2 separate regions of the Homo sapiens genome follow, and region 2 is linked to region 1. The links come from fine-mapping of genetic effects on gene expression. A gene starts in region 1. The other region holds a variant in brackets. All regions are shown on one strand. Distances are from middle to middle. Region 1 holds the start of DUSP12 (dual specificity phosphatase 12). Region 2 holds the start of CFAP126 (cilia and flagella associated protein 126).

What was found. PIP is the estimated chance that this variant, and not a neighbour inherited with it, causes the effect.
Region 2: its variant is fine-mapped to the expression of DUSP12 in whole blood (TOPMed, PIP above 0.99).

What each region holds. Positions count from the first base shown.
Region 1 is chr1:161,745,367-161,756,654 of GRCh38, reverse strand. It overlaps DUSP12 (dual specificity phosphatase 12), which reads right to left and starts at 6,869. Exons shown (of 6, transcript NM_007240.3): 1 at 6,510-6,869; 2 at 4,874-4,987; 3 at 4,671-4,789; 4 at 4,191-4,287; 5 at 3,394-3,580. The coding sequence starts at 6,853. RefSeq lists enhancers at 5,853-6,499, 6,561-7,070, 8,642-8,691, 8,792-8,871.
Region 2 is chr1:161,363,509-161,374,796 of GRCh38, reverse strand. It overlaps CFAP126 (cilia and flagella associated protein 126), which reads left to right and starts at 6,921. Exons shown (of 5, transcript NM_001013625.4): 1 at 6,921-6,955; 2 at 8,296-8,358; 3 at 8,519-8,599; 4 at 9,095-9,271; 5 at 9,647-10,064. The coding sequence starts at 6,929. The coding sequence ends at 9,832. RefSeq lists an enhancer at 9,116-9,618. The variant G/T (reference allele first, on the strand shown) is at 5,867.

The DNA.
Region 1 (11,288 bases):
TAAAATGCATTGGAAATTTACTGTAATAGATAGTAGACTACAATTATCTCATAGGAAGAATGTTGTATTCAGGGAGCTTGAAGGGAGAAAAGTGAAGCTTGAGATTTGATTAAGGAAGGTTTCATGGATGTGGCATATATATATATATATATATATATATATATATATATAGCTTTTAAATCAGTTTGTAATTTAGGACTTCAAATGAAAATGATCACGGCTAAAGTATAGAAAAGCATGTTAGGATTTTCATGCTGTATTACTAACTGTGTGTATTGACAGCATATAAGTCAGATTCTTAGCTATTTAAAGACAAACTGATATTCCAGGAAAATAGGTAAATCAAAAAAGCCTAATAAGGCAACTGCATTTTCTTCTAATGTAGTTAGTTATAGCATTAATTTTTATGTTTAGCTCTTTGATTTATGCATGGTATAAGGTAAGAGTTTTTATTTTTAATCTTGAGCTATAGAAAACTAGACATAAAACTCAGAAGCAGGCTGAGTGTGGTGGCTCATACCTGTAATTCCCAGCACTTTGGGAGGCCAAGGCGGGCAGATCACCTGAGGTCAGGAGTTTGAGACCAGCCTGGTCAACATGGTGAAACCCCGTCTCTACTAAAAACACAAAAATTAGTTGGGCATGGTGGCGGATGCCTGTAATCACAGCTACCTGGGAGGCTGAAGCAGGAGAATATTTGAACCCAGAAGGCGGAGGTTGCAGTGAGCCAAGATCACACCACTGCACTCCAGCCTGGGCAACAGAGCAAGACTCCGTCTCAAAAAAAAGAAATTCAGAAGCCATAAATAAAAAAACTAACAAATTTTATTATGTAAATATCCTTCATTTTAATATGACAAAACATAAAAAATCTGATAAGCAATAGACTGAAGAAAATAGTTGCAATATATTAGATGAACTATTAACATCTAGAATATATAGAGGTCCTACAAATGAGTAAGAAAGAGACAAAACCCATAGGCAAATGGGCCTAGGAATATGAAAGCAATTTATAGAAAAGAAAACAGTAAATGGCTGGTAAATATATAAAGATGGTGGTTGATGACTATTTTCATAAAATTCCAATTAAACATTTTAGGATTAACATTTTTTACCCCACAGACTGACAAAATGTTACCAGTTTTATAGTATCTATTATGTCAAGGATATGGAGTAACGGGTACATGCATTCAGTTACTGAAAACCAAATTTGTATGGGCATTTTGAATATCAGCCTGGAATATCACTAATATTTAAAATACATTCTTCGAGCCAGGAATTCCACTTCTAGGTACATATTCTACAGAAAAAAATCAAATATGTATACAAATAAGTATGCACAGGATTTAGAATCTTACATAAAAATGTATTTAACTTGGCTGGAGTGTGTGTGTGTGTTTCCCAGGTTAAGTAAAATTAGAAAGCCAGAATCACAAGCCACAAAAAAGAAAAACTGATAAATTAGATACCATCAAAATTAAAATCTCTAACTGCTACAAATAATACCATCAAGAATGGGAATTGCAGCTGGGCATGGTGGCTCACGCCTGTAATCCCAGCACTTTGGGAGGCTGAGGCAGGTGGATTACCTGAGGTCAGGAGTTCGAGACCAGCCTGACCAACATGGAAAAACCCCGTCTCTACTAAAAATACAAAATTAGCCAGGCGTGGTGGCGCATCCCTGTAATCCCAGCTACTCAGGAGGCTGAAGCAGGAGAATCACTTGAACCCGGGAGGCAGAGGTTGTGGTGAGCCAAGATTGTGCCATTGTACTCCAGCCTGGGCAACAAGAGTGAAACTCCGTCTCAAAAAAAAAGAATGGGAAGAGTGGGAATGTGAATTGTGATGTGATACGGTTTGGTTCTGTGTCCCCATCCAAATCTCATCTCAAATTGTAATCCCCAAGTGTGGAAGAAGAGAGGTGATTGGATCATGGAGGCAGATACCCCCATGCTGTTCTCGTGATAGTGAATGAGCACTCATAAGATCTGATGGTTTTATAAGTGTTTGACAGTTCCTCCTTCACATATGCTTCTCTCTCCTGCCGCCTTGTGAAGAAGTGGCCTGCTTTCCCTTCTGCCATGATAATAAGTTTCCTGAGGCCTCCCCAACCATGCAGAACCATGAGTCAATTAAACCTCCTTCCTTTATAAATTACCCAGTCTCACGTACTATCTTTATGGCAGTGTGAAAATAGACTAATACACGATGGTTGCAAAAACCACTGTGAATACACTTTAAAAGCCACTGAACTATACACCTTAAATAGGTAAATTGCATGTTATGTGAATTATACTATAATAAGGCTGTTTTTTTTAAAAAAAGCAGCATTATCCGAAAATGTGAGTTTGATTATATGGTACCACTTTCTAGGCAAGACACTACTCATAAACAGTTTCCTCATGCACAACACGTGAATATAACTGCTCTACCTATTTTATAAAGCTATGGCATTCTTCAAATGGTATAATACAGTGAAAGGGTTTCATAAACTAGCCACTATACAAACTTTTATACAAACCATACAAACTTTCAAAATCATTATTAAGATGATTATTATAGAATACCTTCACATTAATATCAAGTAAACCTAAAGGAGAAATGTGGCTGTCATGGCACACTCCAACCAAGTTAAACACTTTTTTATGTAAAATGTCACATGAACTGCATTCTTTTTTTATTTCCCTACCCACTGGTTACAGGAGCAATAGGATGAGCTGCATTATTTAACTGGAAATGAAAAAGAATCTCATAGCAAAACAAACTAAATTTCACTCTCCTAAAAGATAAGAAAAAAGAGAAAGACACATACAGGAAGCCAACAGAGAAAAAGAAAGACAGAATTTTTAACCTAATTTTAAAATCCCTGATTTACCCTATCTTGTTACAAAGTTCAAATTTTGTTTAATACATTTTTTCTTTTCTTTTTTTCTTATTAAAAATTTTTTACTTTCTTTTATAGAGATGAGGTCTCACTATATTGCCCAAGCTGGTCTCGAAACCCTGGGCTCAAGTGATCCTCCCGCCTCAGCCTCCCAAAGTGCTCAGATTACAGGCATGAGCTAATGAGGCAAGAGTGCCCAGCCAATATATTCTAATTAGTTTAAAAATAAATGTTAGTCTTATATTTGAAAAAAATATAAATAGCCTTAAAGGAAATTTATTAACTTAGACCAGGGCTCTCAACCAGAAGTAGTTCACTATGTTGGATCAGCTGGTTTTTGAAAAATATTTTATTTTTGATAGTCTTATCTACACTAGAAAGATATAATCTTCAGAAATAAAGAAATTAAGAAATGGAGCAAAACACTAGTTAAAATAGAGCTTAAAATGCAAGAAGGAATAAAATATAGATCATAAAATAAAATTGTAGAAAATAAAATGTGTTCTCACCTGTCCATCCATCACTCCCAACAAAGCAGATTCCATCCACTGTACAGGTTCAATGAAATAAGATGTACATTGAGCTTGCCTCCCTGTGGTAAGCATGGAAGATGGTGTCATTCTCTTGTGGGCAAAGGCTATAGGTCCACTTCCTTCACGGTGATCCAGAATACTAGAACTTCGAAATAATGATCGCCTGCAACCCCCAAACAAACAAAAGCATTAATGACTTCCAAAAGGATGAAAACATGGATGAAATGTGCGGTATTTCTTTTTTTTTTGAGACAGAGTCTCACTCTGTCGCCCATGCTAGAGTGCAGTGGCGTGATCATGGCTCACTGCAACCTCCGCCTCCTGGGTTCAACCAATTCTCCTGCCTCAGCCTCCTGAGTAGCTGGGATTACAGGCACCAGCCACCATGCCCAACTAATTTTTGTATTTTTAATAGAGACGGGGTTTCACCATGTTGGCCAGGCTGGTCTCAAATTCCCAATCTCAGGTGATCTGCCTGCCTCGGCCTCCCAAAGTGCTGGGGTTACAGGCGTGAGCCACTGCGCCCAGCAAAATGTGCAATATTGCTTAGAGAACAAAATAATGTAACATTGATTACACTACTTAAATTTTCAATAACCCTTACAATCTGATTATTTCTCTTTTTAAGAATTTATATTCTTTCTGAAAACAGATCTGAACTAAAAATTTCAATTAAACAAAATCTTCCTACAGAAATTTAAGAAAATAAAACATTAAGTACTTTTCAGCTACTGAGACAAGATAAAATATCCAAAGGATATAAAATAGTTTACCTGCACTTTCTACACTTGTAGAGAACCTCATCTTTCAATCCTTGTGAAACGGTAGTTGGGTCAACAGCAAAGAGTTCTTGAGGTAAATTCTGCAATTCTATATGACATAATTAAAATGTATTTATTTGTCAAAATCAACTCTGCATTTTCAGATAAATTCAGTTAATGTCAAATTGAGGCAACAAGTGCTAACCTCAAAAATTAAAAAAAAAAAAAAATCAAATTCCAGTGTTGAGAAATCAGGCTAAGGTAGGAGAGGACAGTGATTTAAGTGCTTAGGTTCTGGGCACGGGCTGCCTGAATTCAAATCCTGACCCTGCCATTTATAAACCATGTGATTTTGAATAGGTTATTTCTGGCTAAATCAGTTTCAAAAAGAAACAATAGTTTCTCAGGGATTGCTGGAAGTAAGGTAAAGCATACAATGCTAAAGTAAATGTCATCTAGAAAGCCCATTACACACTAGCAATTATTACTTACCTGGATACTTCTCTGTAACCTTTTGTAAACGATATTGCTTATAAATTGCACTAGAGGTATCCACTTCGTATCCCATTGCCTGGTATAATTTCAGTTGCCACTCAAACCCCTCATTCATCCTGTAATGATAAAGAAATATAAAGTTTCATTTTCTTAAAATTATATCACAAAAGCATAATTATTACTATAAAAAAAGAACCCACTTAGCCTCTGGTTTGAGAATCTGGAGCTTTTCATAGGCTTTTTCAAAGGGAAGTTGGTCAGTCTTCATGAGAAAAGCAGTTATTATGGCCACACTTCGACTGACTCCTGCATGACTGAAAAAGAGACCTTTAAAATAAAACAGCAAATAGCAACAATTAAAAAAAAAAACACACAAAGCCCAGCCCCCTATTAATAGTAAAGTTTAGGCCCACTTCATTTTTGCTTCTCAAATAAGCCCATTGCCTCTGAAATATTATCAAGGTACAAAATAATTATTCCTTTTTCCTTTTGAATTCTGAACCACGTGAATCTATTACCTATTCAAAAATAATAACAGTAATTTTTAAAATTTTTATAATGGCTCAGAACAAATCCAAACTCCTGGCTAGACACAGTGGCTTACCTACGCCTGAAATCCCAGCACTTTGGGAGGCGAGGTGAGAGGATTGGTTGAGTCCAAGAGTTGGAGACCAGCCTGGGCAACAAAGTGAGACCCCACCTCTACAAAAAATTAGCCGGATGTGGTGGGGTCTGTAGTCCCAGCTACTCTGGAGGCCGAGGCAGGAGGTTCACTTGAGCCTGGGAGGTTGAGACTGCAGTGAGCCGTAATTACGCTACTACACTGTAGCCTGGGTGACAGAGCAAGACCCTATATCAAAATAAAAATAAATAAAACAAAACAAAAACAAATCCAATCTCCTTTCATCTTAGCATTCAGGGACCTCAAAATCTGGTCCCAGACTTCTTTTGATTTCATCACTATCTTCTTTTATGTGCTCAATAAATTTAAACGATTATTATACTCCAATCCAACCAAGAACTGCTTAGGGATTCCCATTTTCTTTTTTTGGGGGGAGGGATGGAGTCTCGCTCTGTTGCCCAGGCTGGAGTGCTGTGGCATGACCTCGGCTCACTGCAACCTCCGCCTCCCAGGTTCAAGTGATTCTCCTGCCTCAGCCTCCCGAGTAGCTGGGACTACAGGCGAGAGCCACCACGCCCGGCTAATTTTTGTATTTTTGGTTTCACCATATTAGCCAGCCTGATCTCGAACTCCTCACCTTGTGATCCTCCTGCCTCCCAAAGTGCTGGGATTACAGGCGTGAGCCACCGCGCCCTGCGGGATTCCCATTTTCTTTTTGTCTTTGCTGCAACCATCTCCTCCCTAGGCAAAGCCCAGGGATCCTTTAGATCCAAACCAATTCATCTCTTCATCAACCACCCGCCACCCATCCCAAACAAAAACATTTAACCCTAAATCTTTGTAAATCCCGTTTACAAGACACCAAGCAACCTAATCTGCATTACAATAATCGGGGTGGGTGTCTAGCTTCTCCAACAGAGCTGTAAACTCCTTAGGGTGTAGGTAATTTGTCATTTATCAGATGACACCTCCCCCGCCCTCTGCTGCTGCAGGAAGAACCAACTAAAGCATGAATGAATGAAAGCCTGCACACACCAGGGGCCCGCCTCAACCCTCCTCCTCTCTTGGAAACACGCCTCCTGCGGGAGGCAGCGGGAGGAGGTTCACGCGGCATGACCGCGCTCTTGTCCTCCCGACGGCCTCGGAAGGTAAGGGGCGACGGGGGCCGGCTGGAAGCTTGGCGGGGCACGTCACCCACTGACCCGGCCACTCACCAGTGCACCAACACCGCACGGCCCTCAGCGCGGGCCTGACCGATGAAGGCCACGCACCGGTCCAGATGGCTGAGTAGGTCCGTCTCGGGTTTGTCCAGCGCTGGCACGAAGAGGCGCCATAGATCCTCGACCCCAGGCCCCGCCTTGAAGCTGGGCTCCTCCGAGTCCACTGTTAGCACGGCCGTGATGCCCGCTTCCCTCAGGTGATCTGGCTCCGCGACGGCCGCGGCCCCACCGAAATACAATCCTGGCTGCACTTCCAGCATCTGCCCGGCACAGCTGACTCTGCTGGCGCTGGGGTTGCTGAGCTCGCAGCCATCACTCGGGCCCGGAGCCTCCAACATGGCCGCGCCCAGAGACAAGGCGGCTTCCTGCCCTACCATCGAGTAGACTCCGGCTAGAACATCCTTCCCCTGGGACTCGCCAGCCTCGGCGGCTCTGCTGCTCCCTCGGAGGACCACGTCGGCCGCAGGAATCTGGACTTATCGCTGAGGGGCGGAGCTTCGGCCCCATTCAGCGCGGCCTTTCCACCCTTGTTCCCTCTGACCCCTACCCCCAAAGTTGATGGTGAAGGATAAGCTTCCCCAAATACAGGGTTTCTCGAGCTCTTAGTATTGAAATTTTCAGGAAAGAGACATCAGGAGCAGCTGAACTCAAATGTGAAATAAATGTCGCACCAGCTGAATCAGAAGCATCATTTTATGCATTTGAAGTAAAATTTTTTTCAATATTATGGAGCCATCTTTACTGTGCATTTCATGATTATTTTTCCTTTTTCTGCCCAATTTCATTATTGGGGTGTGAATCCTTGTTGATGTTTACTGTCTATTTATTTTGAAGATACTAATCCTATATTTTTGTAAGTCAATGTCCTCCGGCCAGGACTACAAGAAACCAACTTTAATTAAGCAAGTTGGTTTTATTACTCAGTCATGAGTTATGGAGAATTTCAGGGCATCTCAGCACGAGGATGTTAGGAAGATCCTCTACAGATTTTGGGCTTTTATTTGGGGATTTTGGAAAGGGTTGAAGGAAGCAGGCTTTGCTCCAGACTGAATGCTGCAGGAAGATACTCAGTACAGTGAGTATATTTTATATATCTTTTGTATAGGGAGGACAGGTGAGAGAGATACTAAAGCTGTAATTGGTCAAGAAGTAGCAGCTATAGTACTGGTATAAAGATAGATACATCGACGTGTCTCTATTCTGGAACAGAACAAACCCTTGCGTGTGGAGTCCTAATTAGGGAAAAGGAGTCAGGCTGGCTGGACGAAGGGAAGCAAAAGGAGAAAGCAGACAAGCCATAAGTCTGCCTTTCTTCGTGGTCCAGGACACATAGCCCTGCTGTGCAAATAACTCACAATCTGCCTGTGCCCAGCCATCACCAGACCCTCAGCTGATAGAAAAATGGAAGTTAGTTCACTGCAACCCTGGCATTATTAGTACTGCACAAAGCCCTCTTCCACCCACAACATAAGCACCATTCTACAAAATCCCCAGCAAGCCTTTGTTTCCTAGCAGTCAGCTTCTCTCTTGCTGACCTGCCTGTTGCACCCTTGCAATGTATTTTCATACTTTATCTAATAAACCTGCCTTTCTTTACCTACAACTGTGTTGGTAAATTCTTCCTACCACCCATGTCACCAGCCCAGAAAGCTGCTAATCACCTGCAACACTGCATATATGTTAGAATAATCTTCAAAAAGAGTGCCAAGACCACACAATGGAAAAAGGACAATCTCCTCAACAGTGTTGGGAAAAACTAGATATCCACATGCAAAAGAATGAAGATGGACCTTTACCTTGGACCATACACAAAAAATAACTCCAAATAGATTAAAGACCTAAAAATATAACATTCTTAGTAGAAAACATAGGGGGAAAGCTTCATGGCCTTGGATTTGATAAAAATGTTGAAACAGGTAAGGGTTAATGGTCTCATTGTCTAAGGTGTTATCCGAACTTGTCTAACGACCGAGAAAACTAAGGAGCATGGGCACAAAGAGTGAGGTTGAAGCAAAAGTTTAATAAGCAAAAGAAGAAAGCTCTCCACAGCAGAGAGGGGAGCCCAAGTGGGGTGCCATTTTTACAGCTGAATTCAAAACCTATTATAAGAAACTCCTCTCATCTCTATAGTTGTTTGAGTAACTTCTCTTATGAATAAATCTGTCTGTGCAACTTCCCTTATCTTCTGCCGATGTGGGTATGTCTCTAGGCAAGCACAAAGCGTGGGTTCTCTTGTTTGTATCACTGTAGGTTTGTTTTAGGTAAGCCCCCCTCCTTCCTGTGCAAGTTCCCACGGAGTCCACTGTGTATATACCTGAAAAGGGGAGGAAAGTTTTTCCTGGGAGCTCGCCAATTACACGAAGAATGAAAAGCGTCTGTGCTGGACCCTACCTGCTTATCTGTGCAGGTGCAGCCTGAGTTTTGCCTAAGCTGCTCTATTTTGTTTGTAGCTGTGATTTTTCAGGCAGACTGCTTCTCCAAGGGCTAGCCTTAGCTGTCTACCTAACTGATTTTTCCTTTTCTTCTCCCTCAATTTTTTGGATAAAATACCAAAAGCACAGGCAACAAAAGCGAAAATAGACAAATGGGACTATATCAAATTTTAAAGTGTCTGCATATCAAGCAAAACAGTCAATAGAGAGAAAAGGAATTTGTATGGAATGGGAAAAAATAATTGCAAAGCATATATCTGATACGTTAATATGCAGAACATATAAAAAACTCCTACAACTCGACAACAGAAAAACAAGTAACCCAATTTTCAAAAAACTGGGCAAACGACCTGAATAGACATTCCTCCAAAGAAGATATACAAGAGGCCAAAAAGCATAGGAAAAGATGCTCAAATTGCTAATCATTAGAGAAATGCAAATCAAAACTACAATAATAATATCATCTTACACCCATTAGGATGGCTAGTATTTTTTTCAAGCACAGAAAATAAGTGTTAGCAAGGATGTGGAAAAATTGGAACGCTTATGCATTGCTGAAGGGAATGTAAAATGGTGCACCCACCAGGGAAAACAGTACGGAGTTTCCTCAAACGATTAAAAATAGAATTACCACATGATCCAGCAATCTCACTTCTAGGTTATATAGCCAAAAGAATTGAAAGTGGGATCTCAAAGATATTTGCACACCCATATTTATGGCAACATTATTCACAATAGCAAAAAGGTAGAAGTAACCCAAATGTCCATCATGGATTAATGGATAAAGAAAATGTGGTATGGGCCGGGCGCGGTGGCTCACGTCTGTAATCCTAGCACTTTGGGAGGCCGAGGCAGGTGGATCACCTGAGGCCAGGAATTCAAGACCAGCTTGGCCAACATGGCAAAACCCTATCTCTACTAAAAATACAAAAATCAGCTGGGCATGGTGGTGGGTGCCTGTAATCCTAGGTACTCGGGAGGCTGAGGCAGGAGACTCGCTTGAACCCAGGAGACGGAGGTTGCAGTGAGCCAAGATCATGCCACTGCACTCCAGCCTAAGGGATGGAGCGAGACTCTGTCTCCAAAAAGGAAAGAAAGAAAGAAAGAGAGAGAGAGAGAGAAGGAAGGAAGGAAGGAAGGAAGGATGGAAGGAAGACGGAAGGAAGGAAGGAAGGAAAGAGAGAGAGAAAGAAAGAGAAAAAGAAAAGAAAGAAAGAAAGAAAAAGAGAAAGAAAGAAAGAAAGATGGTATATGCATATGATGAACTATTATTCAGCCATATAAAAAGAGGGAAATTCTGTCACATGCTACAACATAGATTATCTTTGAGGTCGGGCACGGTGGCTCATGCCTGTAATCCCAGCACTTTGTGGGGCTGAGGCTGGCAGATGACCTGAGGTCAGGAGTTTGAGACCAGCCGTGCCAACATGGCGAAAACCTGTCTCTACTAAAAATACAAAAAAAAAAAAAAAAAAAGGCGGGGCCCAGTGGCTCACACCTGTAATCCCAGCACTTTGGGAGGCCAAGGCAGGCAGATTACCTGAGGTCCGGAGTTCAAGACCAGCCTGGCCAACATGGTGAAACCCCATCTCTACTAAAAATACAAAAATTAGCCAGGCATGGTGGCAGGCGCCTGTAATCCCAGCTACTTGGGAGGGTGAGGCGGGAGAATCACTTGAACCCCCTTGAACTCATGCCACTGCACTCCAGCGTGGGCAACAGAGCGAGACTCCATCCTAAAAAACAAAAATGAAAACAAAACCTTAGCTGGGCATGGTGGTGCATGCCTGTAATCCAGCTACTCAGGAGGCTGAGGTAGGAGAATCCCTTGAACCCCGGAGGTGGAGGTTGCAGCGTGCCGAGATCGCATCACTGCACTCCAGCCTGGGTGACAGAGCAAGACTCCATCTCAACAACAATAAAAACTTTGAGGACATTATGCTAAGTAAAATAAGGCACGACTGTAGATGCTGAGGATATAAAGATGTATGACAGTCTTTGCCCTCAAGGAACTTGGTGAAATGCTGGAGTGAAAGTAAGTAAATAGCTAATTAGTGTTATAGTAGAGGCAAGGGCCGTGTACTAAGGGAGCACATGGAGGCATCCAATCCTAATGGAAGGAGGGTAATTAGGGATGGCCTCCCAGAGGAGGTGATGCTTGATCTGCATCTTGAAGGATGAGTGGGAATTTGTCAGGGAAAAAGGAGGGAGATGAGGAAAGAAGTTCTAACCGGAAGGACCAACATCTTCAAAGGCACAAAGGCCAGAAAGCCCCATCGAAGTGTAAATGTGTTGTTGGAAAAGGGAGAAAGAAGGATGATGCAGATGGTGTTCACAGTTG
Region 2 (11,288 bases), 380 kb after region 1:
AGCAAGATTCTGTCTCAAAAAAAAAAAAAAAAAAAAAGGAATGAAAGAAAAGAAAAAGAAATAGTGTTAAATAGCTCTATGAATGCTGCAGAGAGGGCTACCCCATAGGCAGTGTGTGGGGAGTATACAAAGCTTGTTCTTTGGCTCCTCAGGAAGGGGATCTTATCAAGAATATTATTCTTTTGTGGTATTGTCAGTGGAAAGGAGAGATGTAACAGCAGTCTCCGAGAGAGGGAGCCTTAGTCTCAGGAAAGAAAACTGGATCAGCTATTTTAACTCTATAGAGAAGTTTTGAAACTATAGCTTTTACATTTGTAGCCATGCATCTCTTCAGGGGTCAGAACTACGCCTTCATTTCCTATAAGGAAATCTACAAAAACCAGGGTGTTTGAATAGTTCAAAATTTGGCCAGTAGCTTGGTTGGATGAAATCCTGTTAGCCCAGGAAATGGGGCAAAAGCCAGGTCTCCTATCCAAGACCCATCAACACCTGACCCAGTGAGGTGACATGGAGGGCACCTTGGAGCTACTTAGAAGAAACCTTAGTAGAGAGCTGATGGTATAACTAGAGACAGTGATTCAGGTGGTTACACTGTGTAATAGATGAGATAAATGCCCCATTTTTACTATGAAGGGGTTACTAATAATTTTTTCTGGTTTTAAAAATTGCCATGGGAGGCCGGGCGCGGTGGCTCACGCCTGTAATCCCAGCACTTTGGGAGGCTGAGGTGGGCGGATCAACTGAGGTCAGGCATTCGAGACCAGCCTGACCAACATGGAGAAACCCTGTCTCTACTAAAAATACAAAATTAGCCGGGTGTGGTGGTGCATGCCTAAAATCTCAGCTACTCGGGAGGCTGAGGCAGGAGAATCGCTCGCTTGAACCCGGGAGGCGGAGGTTGCGGTGAGCCGAGATCGCACATTGCACTCCAGCCTGGGCAACAAGAGCGAAACTCCATCTCAAAAAAAAAAAAAAAAAGAAAAGAAAAGAATAAAGGCAGTGAGAAACAGAGATGATAAAGAAGAAACAGAAAATCTTTCTGATCATGTTCTATCTTTGAAATTCTAGTATCCTTTGAAGCCCAAACTATACTTCCTACCTTTGGAATCTGTTAAATACTCCTATTAATTATAATTTCCCCACTTCCCCTTTTTTGTTTAAGGTAACCTGAATGAGTACTTCTTACTTGGCAGTCTTAAGCCAATAATAATGCTAAAATAATTGAGCATTCATTATGCATCTTGCACCCTATTAGCATGTTACATATATTTAATGCTCAAAACTAAGATTATCCCCATTTTACATGTAAGGGTACTGAGACCCAGAAAGATTAACTTGTGTAAGGCCACACATTTAGGCAAAGCCAGAATTTAATCCAGGCAATGTGACTCTAGTACTTATGCTGGTGGTTGCCTTCACGTAGGTCCAATGTACACATCGCCTATAGAGTACAGGTTAAACTTGTACTTCAATAGCAGATAATCTCAGTCCAAATAAAAGATTTCCTAATGGTTTAGTTTCAGTCATCAAAGAATTTAAGTGAATGGAAAAAAGTATCTTAAGGCATACGTAAAGGATGGGGCCTTTAAAGAGCCCTTCCAACTTTGGAAGAAGTAAATCTGGTCCTAGTAAAAGACCATCTGCTGTACCTGAAGTCAACCAGTTCATCTGAAGAAAGGCTAAAATTCAATACACTTTTATTAGAAGCTTAAAATTGCCTGTTACTACTGATATTACAATTTCCTAGTGAAATCTTTTTTTTGTTGAGACGGAGTCTCGCTCTGTCGCCCAGGCTGGAGTGCAGTGGCGCGATCTCGGCTCACTGCCAGCTCCACCTCCCGGGTTCACGCCATTCTCCTGCCTCAGCCTCCCGAGTAGCTGGGACTACAGGCACCCCCCACCACGCCGGGCTAATTTTTTGTATTTTTAGCAGAGACGGAGTTTCACCGTGTTAGCCAGCATGCTCTCGATTTCCTGACCTTGTGATCCACCCCCCTGGGCCTCCCAAAGTGCTGGGATTACAGGCCTGAGCCACCGCGCCCGGCCTGAAATCTTAAATATTAGAATTCACATAGGATCAAGCCAGGACTCCACCTTGGATTTTTTTTTTTTTTTTTTTAGACGGAGTCTCACTCTGTCGCCAGGCTGGAGCACAGTGGCGCAATCTCGGCTCACTGCAACCTCCGCCTCCCGGGTTCAAGCGATTCTTCTGCCTCAGCCTCTGGAGTAGCTGGGACTACAGGCGCGCGCCACTACGCCCAGCTAATTTTTGTATTTTTAGTAGAGACGGGGTTTCACCATGTTGGCCAGGATGGTCTCCATCTCTTGATCTCGTGATCCTCCCGTCTCAGCCTCTCAAAGTACTGGGATTACAGGCGTGAGTCACCGCGCCTGGCCTTTTTTTTTCTTTTTTTTGAGATGGAGTCTCACTCTGTCGCCCGGGGGATGGAGTGCAGTGGCGCAATCTCGGCTCACTGCAACCTCCACCTCCCGGGTTCAAGCGATTCTCTTGCCTCAGCCTCCCGAGTAGCTGGGACTACAGGCACGTGTCACCATGCCCAGCTAATTTTTGTATTTTTAGTAGAAACAGAGTTTCGCCATGTTGGTCAGGCTGGTCTCGAACTTCTGTCCTCAACTGTTCCACCTGCCTCAGCCTCCGAAAGTGCTAGGATTACACGTGTGAGCCACTGTGCCCAGCGTGTACCTTGGATTTTAGATTACAGAGAGACAAATAATCTAAAACGATCACCTTTCTCTCTAGAACAGTGGGTTAGAGGATCCAGAAACAGACCCAAATATGTTAGGGAATACATTAAAAATGGCATTTCAAATCAGTAGAGGAAAAGAAAACTTATTAATGATGCCAAGGCAACTAGTTAAGGCAACTGAAGCATAACCTTGTCCACATTCACTAAAATTCCAGAAGGAACAAATATTTAAATGTAAGAACTGAAGCTAGGGGTAAATTATTTTTAAAATATTGGAATTCACAAAAAGCCATTCAAAGCATAAGATCCAGAGCACAGAAAAAATGAGTAATACATCTGACTACTACATAAGTACTAAAAACATGTCCATGGCAAAAAAAAAAAAAAAAACCCACAGAAAAACAACAACAAAACAGAAAAACCACCAACAAAATGAAAGTAAGTGACAAATTGGAGGGAATATTTGCAACATATTTGACAAAGGACTAATTTCCTTAATATATGGAGTTCAAACAGATTAATGAACATGATCAACAGGCTGGGTGCAGTGGCTCAAGCCTGTAATCCCAGCTTTTTGGGAAGCTGAGGTGGGCAGATGGCTTGAGCCCAGGAGTTCAAAACCAGCCTGGGCAACATGGCAAAATCCCATCTCTACAAAAAAAATTAAAAAATCAGCTGGGTGTGGTGGTGCATCCCTGTAGTTCCAGTTATTCGGGAGGCTGAGGTGGGAGGATTGTTTGGACCTGAGAGGCAGAAGTTACAGTGAACCAAGATGATGCCACTGCACTCCAGCCTGGGTGACAGAGGGAGGACTGGTTTCAAAAAAAAAAGTCAACAGCCCAATAGTAAGTGGCAAAATACATTAAAGGCCATTTTCAGGGAAAAAAATTAAAATAAAAACAGTTTATACACATATAAAAACACCCTAATTAAAGAAATGCAAATTTAAAACAATGATATACCATGTTGGGTGGGTGTGGTGGCTCGTGCCTGTAATCTCAACACTTCCAGAGGTCGAAGAATCACTTGAGGCCATGAATTCAAGACAAGAGGAACAATATAGTTAAGACCCTATCTCTTAAAAAAAATTTGTTTTTTTAAATTAGCTGGGCATGGTAGCTCATGCCTATACTCCCAACTACTTGGGAGGCTAAGGTGGGAGGATTGCTTGACCTCAGGATATTGATGGAACCACTGCACTCCAGAGCTTAGGCGGCAGGGAGACCGTCTCAAAACAAAAACAAAAAATAAAATTATATACCATGTTTAACCTACAGCTTAACAAGCAATATGATATAATGGTTAAAACTGCTGGCTCTAGAGTCAGAATACTTGGGATTAAATCCTGGCTCTACTCCTCACTGTGTATTCTCCAGTTTCCTTGGTTGGGTTGAGAACTAAATGAGAAAATGTAGTAAAGCAATTAGAACTGTGCCTGGCATGTATATAGTAACTGCTCAGTTAACATTAGTTCTACTAGTTCAATCAATTAGTTCTATTAGTTCAATTCTATTAGTTCAATTAAAATTGGTTTAAACTGAAAAAAAAAGAAAAAACGATGATGTTGAAAAGAAAGCAGAGAACTAGGCACTCATACGCCATCATACACCACTGGTAGAAGTACAAACTGGCACAATGTCTTTCAGTGGTAATTTGACATTATCTACTTATTTTATTTTATTTATTTATTTATTTTTGAGACGGAGTCTCGCTCTGTCTCCCAGGCTGGACTGCAGTGGCGCGATCGTGGCTCACTGCAAGCTCCGCCTCCTGGGTTCACGCCATTCTCCTGCCTCAGCCTCCTGAGTAGCTGGGACTACAGGCCCCCGCCACACGCCCAGCTAATGTTTTGTATTTTTAGTAGAGATGGGGTTTCACCATGTTAGCCAGGATGGTCTCGATCTCCTGACCTCGTGATCGCCCGCCTCAGCCTCCCAAAGTGCTGGGATTACAGATGTGAGCCACCGCACCCGGCCTATCTACTTATTTTAAATGCACAAACCCTTTTGACTTTGCAATGTACTTTAAAACATTTATCCTACAGATCACATATGTACATAAAAATACATACATACATATTCATAAAGATACATAGGGATTTTTCATTACAGCAATGTCCTTATTAGCAAAAGACTATAAATAAACTAAATGGTCATCCATATGGGTCTGAACAAACTATGGTGCATCCCAAAATGGAATATTATGATAAAAACATAATCCCCAAGATAGTCAAAAAGCAAATCAAAAAGCAATGTGGACAGCTCTCTCATTAGTGTTTGTATGCAGAGAAGATTTCTGGAAGGAGACACAAGAAATGAGTAACAGCAGTTGCCCTGAGGAGCAAGACTGAGAGTTGAAATCAAATGGAGATTTGCTTTTCACTGAACATCCTGTAAACATGAAATTTTTTCCATGTACATTACTTTTTCAATTGAACAAAAACTGGTTAACTTTTAAAAATGAGTGCAGTCATCATTTATCATTACATTCCTATCAGAAAGGCAGAGGGAGGCATACCAACTGAAGACAAATTCTAAGAGAAATAATGCTAGCCTATCATTGCAGATTAAAGGGCCAAAATGGATATCCTAGAGCAAAGATAGTCCTTGGTCCTTAAAGAACTCTTCTCTAGAGAGTGATAAGAACCACAGGGACTAAGCTCATGAGTTATCTTTCCAGATCTCACATTATCCAGGTATTAACTCCAGAGCCTATAAAACAAGAGCTGTTCTTCCCTCCATCTGCAGAAGCATAGGAGTGCTCTTATACTTGGTGTGTTGGTTAAGATGAGGATTTTGGGGGAAGAAGGAAAAGAGAAGGGACTGATGGATATACTTTATTTATTTTTTATTTTTTGAGACGGAGTCTCACGCTGTCGCCCAGGCTGAAGTGCAGTAGTAGCATGATCTCTGCTCATTGCAACCTCCGCCTCCCGGGTTCAAGCAATTCTCCTGCCTCAGCCTCCCGAGTAGCTGGGATTAGAGGCATGCACCACCATGCCTGGCTAATTTTTTGTATTTTTAGTAGAGACAGGGTTTCTCCATGTTGGCCAGGCTGGTCTCGAACTCCTGACCTTGTGATCCGTCTGCTTCGGCCACCCAAAGTGCTGGGATTACAGGCATGAGCCACCGTGCCCGGCCTGGATATACTTTATAATG[G/T]TCTCCTGGTCCTAATGATATCTTTGGGCAACTTATTTCTTAGTTTTTCCCTTTCATCTTGACACCTTATATATAAATTCACTTTACAATTCACAAAGCACAGTTCTACTTACTTATTAATTCTCCTAACCACCTCATAGATGGGTATTACAATACCATTTTATGAGTTTCAGAGGGGTTTCCTTGTCCCACACATATTAGGCTTATGTCCTGGCAGCCCCCCATTGAACTCTCCAAACCTGATCCTTTCCACTCTGTGATTTTCTCTCTTCATCCCTGCTCAATCTCCCTGCACCAGCACCCGATTCCATTTTATTCCAGTCAACACTAAACGCCTGTGTTCTTAGGTGCTGATTCTAGACAGTGACAGAGGAAATTTTTTAAGGACCAAGGACAAGATATGTTTTTCCTTCTGGGGACAGATTTGAGCTAGTTGCTTTTTAAATATTGTTCCTTTGTTATTCTGCCTGATAAGACAAAGTAGTGGGCCTTATAAACAGGATCTCACCAGGATTGAATACCTACTATGCTATGATATTGTCTAGACACTTTATTCATTTTATCTCACTTACCCTGTAAAAGCAGGCTCTATTATCCCCACAATACAAATGAGTTGATAGAAATTTAGTGAAGACAAGACAGTTGTTTAATGTCATATAGCTCCTATGTTCCCATGTTGAATAAGGATTCAAACCCCAGTATCTGGCTCTACAGCCTGTGGTACATTACACCATGTTGTCCAACAAGCATAGCTCTCAGGGTTACATGGTTTGTTAAAGTGGTTAAAAACCCCAATCAAAGGCCCGTGGAAGTTCTTAAGCAGGGGTAGGTTATGCCAGAAAAAAAGTAGTGGCTATTCAGCTAATTTTCTCACATTTACTCAGTCTTTCCCGTCTGTAAAATAAAAATGAATCTAAGTTCCAGAGAAAACAAATGGGGGCAGTGTGAGCCAAGGAAGTGAATAATAATAAGCAGAAGAGAAAGGCAGCCTCTGCTCATTGGTAGTCCCAGGAGGTCGGCCTTCTGCAGTTGCCAAGCAACGAGTGTAAACAGCACAAGATCATGGCCACTAACTACAGTGCCAACCAGGTAAGTTCCCATTCTCCATTTCTTTAACGTTTACTTTTGTTTTTCAGATTCTATCTTTGGACTGTCCCCTCTCATAGGATTCTGATCTTTGAACAGATAGCTGAGAGTGGAGTGAGATAATATTTTACCTCCTCAGGGATAGAGAGAGCCCAGGGGCGATCCAAAGGTATCTCTTGGTTAAATTTGTAGGGTGTAAACCAGAAGTTGGCAATTTTTTTTCTGTAAAAGGGCGGAGTGTAAAAATTTTAGGCTTTGCAGGCCAAGTGGCAAAGTCAAAAATATTCTGTAGCTACTTGCATAATTAAAGAAAAACATTTTTCCATAACATTTTTGACAAATTCAAAATATAACTGAGTACAATTTTTTGTACTACTAATGAAAATAATGGAATTTTGGGGGTTGAGAAAACATTTCACTTAACTGGGATTCAAAGTTAGTGTTCCATTTGACTGAATCAATTGTAAATGTTCATCTATAAAAATCACCCTTACTCTCAGGCCATCCCCAAACAGGCAGCAATATGGATATGGCCCATAGGCCATAGTTTACCAACTCCTGATCTAGACCAGTGCTGCCCAACAAAAAGAGTGCGACCCACAAATGTAATTTTAAATTTTCTAGTAGCTACATGAAAAAATTAAAACATAAAATTTAAATATATTGAATTTAACCCAATAAATCCAAATATTATTTCAACATTTAATCAGTATTTAAAAAATTATAATCAGACATTTTACGTTCTTTTTTTGTACTAAATCTCCAAAACCTGCTGGGTGTTGTAGCTCACGTCTGTAATCCCAACACTTTGGGAGGCTGAGGCACAAGGATCGCTTGAGGCCAGGGGTTTGAGACCACCCTGGGCAATATGGTGAGACCTCGTCTCTACAAGTAAATTTAAAAATTAGCTGGACATGGTGGCATGCACCTGTAGTCCCAGCTACCTGTGAGTCTGAGGGAGGAGGATCGCTTGAACCCAGGTGTCCAAGGCTGCAGTGAGCTAGGATCATGCCACTGACTCCAACCCAGGTGGCAGACCAAGATCCTATCTCAAAAAAAAAAAGAAAAGAAAAAAACTTAAAAATTCAGCATATTTCATATTTACAAAGCACCTCAATTTGAACTAGTCATATTTCAGGTGCTCAACAGCTCCATGTGGCTCCCGGCTCCATGCTGGACAGCACACATCTAGACCAAACAAATTACACCCTTGTCATAGTGACTTAAAGCCTACATGGTTGGTCAGGCCTTTGGTCTTCAAATCTAAAGAATTGTGCCTAGTCTTCATTTCCTGGGTTTGGGGCCTTGAAGTCTCATAGGGCTACTTATCTTTCTCTCCACAGTATGAAAAGGCTTTCTCATCCAAGTATCTGCAGAACTGGTCTCCCACTAAGCCAACAAAAGAGGTATTCCATGTTCAGTGCACCTACAAGATAGCCTCATGCTCTCCCTGTCAATTAACTCCTTTTAGCATTCTCTAAACTCCCATATCCTTCTCTGACCAAGCTCCCCAAATACTTCCCTTTTTCCCCTCACAAACCTTTATCTCTCCCACTTGTACCCCAGAGCATCTCTTCTCATGAAGGCTACACTCAAATTATTGCCAACGATCGTGGTCATCTACTGCCTTCTGTGCCCCGTTCCAAGGTGAGATACTATCTTCACTCCTATCAAGAAAGTCAAATAATTAAGGCACAGAACTGGGAGATGTGCAGTCTCTCACAGCCATTATCGGGAAAATTAAAGTTTAATCTAATTCATGTTGTAATGTGAGAGCCCCTGAACTTCCGGCCAGCTTACCCAGCAGGATAGAGTTGTGTTTAGCACCCTTCAGAAGTTCTTAAATTGATCAATGATCTGTATAAATGAAAGCCTTCAGGTGATGACATTTGTGCAGTGGGTACTCCTTTGCCACACTCGGCCTAAGGATGTGGAATTTAAGTTGGCAGAGTAAAGGGGATGAAAAAATTAGGCCTGCAAAGCCTAAATGAGGGAGGGGGATAAGGAAGGGTGGGAAGATTATGCTTTCAGTCTTGTTTCATAACCATGCATTCCTAAAGGTAAAGAAAGGAAATAATACAGAGGTCTAAGTCAGTTACTGGGAGTGAGAAGCCCTACTGAGGAATCCCTTTTCATTTTTAGGCAAATCCTTGGGGTTCCTTCATGGGCACCTGGCAAATGCCTCTGAAGATACCCCCTGCTCGGGTGACCCTGACCTCCCGTACAACTGCTGGTGCTGCCTCCCTCACCAAATGGATACAGAAAAATCCTGATTTACTCAAGGCCTCCAATGGGCTGTGTCCTGAAATCTTAGGCAAGGTATCTATTCTTCCCATCTAACCCAAAACCCTGTAGTCTCAATTTCTTTTCAACCTCAAAAAATGTCTATTGTTATGCCACCACTATCCCAGCATGGGGGACCTCTAACCAATTTGTCTTATCTTGACTAGTCCTTAATCACCTTCTGAGGCCTGAAGGGATGGGCTAAGGACATCATACCCCCAACAGTAGAAAATGATCTAATCTCAAGGTGGGGGAGGGTGGTTAGAGAAATCAAATTTAACTTTTCTTATTTGAAACTTGATCTACTGCCCATGGTATGGGGAGAAAGGGAGTTAGAATCCTGAGGTGCATTAGGAATGATCCGGGCCTGACCAGAGACATGACTATCTCTCCCACTCTTATCACTGACAGCCCCATGATCCAGACAGTCAGAAGAAACTCAGAAAGAAGTCTATCACAAAGACTGTACAACAAGCACGAAGTCCAACCATAATTCCAAGCTCCCCAGCTGCCAACCTCAATTCCCCAGATGAACTCCAAAGCTCACACCCCTCTGCAGGTCATACTCCAGGTCCCCAAAGACCAGCCAAATCCTAAGAGCCCACCTGGAAGTCCACGTATGCTAGAACTCTGGGCAGGGCCTAATCTAGCTGAGGTCCAGAAATACAAACCTGGAACTTCATATGGACCAAGTGGCCACACACTGAAAAACCCGTATAGCGACTCAGTGAAATAAACAAGAGCCCCCAGTCAGAACTGTGAAACAGGGAAATTTTGGGGTGGGAGTAAAAGCAAATTTGGAAAATAAACTTTTTTTTGTTGAATCTTTTACTGATCTGGATTTTCCATTCTTGCTATGGCTGCCTCTTGTAACACAATTAGGAGAAGGAAGGTAGGAGAAAATAAAGTAGGGAAAAGAACATACAGTGGTTTGGGTGGAACACATTTTTACAAGAATTGAGTCAGTTATACTCCAGAAATGACCAAGAGAAAGTTGGTCTGAATCATGGAAAAAGGGCAGAACCTCAAAGAACCAGTCCCTCAACCCTACCCACTCATTTTTTATCCTGAGCATGGACAACTAACAACTACAAAATCAGAAATAGAATTGAGTAGAGTATGTATATGTGTGTTTGGAGAAGGTGGGGAAGAAAAGGTAGGGAAAACCAAAGTAGAAGATACTATGCTTGTGTAAGACTTTCTATCTAAGCCCAAGTACAAATATAGTTTGAAAATTGAAGATATTAAAGTGATTGGAAGACAGAGAAGAAAAAGACAGTAAGTAGAAATTTAAGGCAGAATAACAAACATGATGCTCTGTCACACCCCCCACCCACCCACTACCATGCTTCAATCACCCAAATGGTACGAAACCACCAAAAAATTCAACTGCCCTACCCATTTTCCAGCCTCTAACAGCTGTTTATCATTGACCCCATTTTATATTTTCCTGGCACTGGCTGTTAAATTTAATGCCCTTGCCAAACCTTTCCCAGTCCCAATGACAAAGTGTTCTGTCATGATCACTTGTCCCTCATTCCAAGGACAAAGTAGAGAACAGCTGGTTTAAAATGGAGGAAAGGTACAAGGACTTCCCAGGGCCCCTCTAGTAAAAAGGGAAAACCAATCATTACTTAAAGCCAAATACTATTTGGGACCCTGAATGAAGACTGTTAAAACAGCGGGTCCCCACCTTAACTAAGGTCTTCCTATCCAATTGACACCAGCCAGTTAACATTTCCCCTCTTCGACCCACAGCTTTAACTGGCTGGCCAACAACTCGAAGTGACAGATGAGATAAGTCTCTTATTCCAGAGTTCCCAAAAACTATCAAAACAGCATGCCTGCTAAAGCCTGGCCTATATGGATTTTAAAAGCAGCAAGTTTTCTCATTAAATTATACATTTTTGCCAGGTTTTCAACAATCCCTTCTTTTTTAAAAAAAAACTCTATGCTTCATTCACCCCAAGCCTATAACCTCAGGTCATCATCCCCTAGCTGTCACCAACACTGGTCCTCTGTGCCCCTCAATGAATCATAATTTGCTGAACTG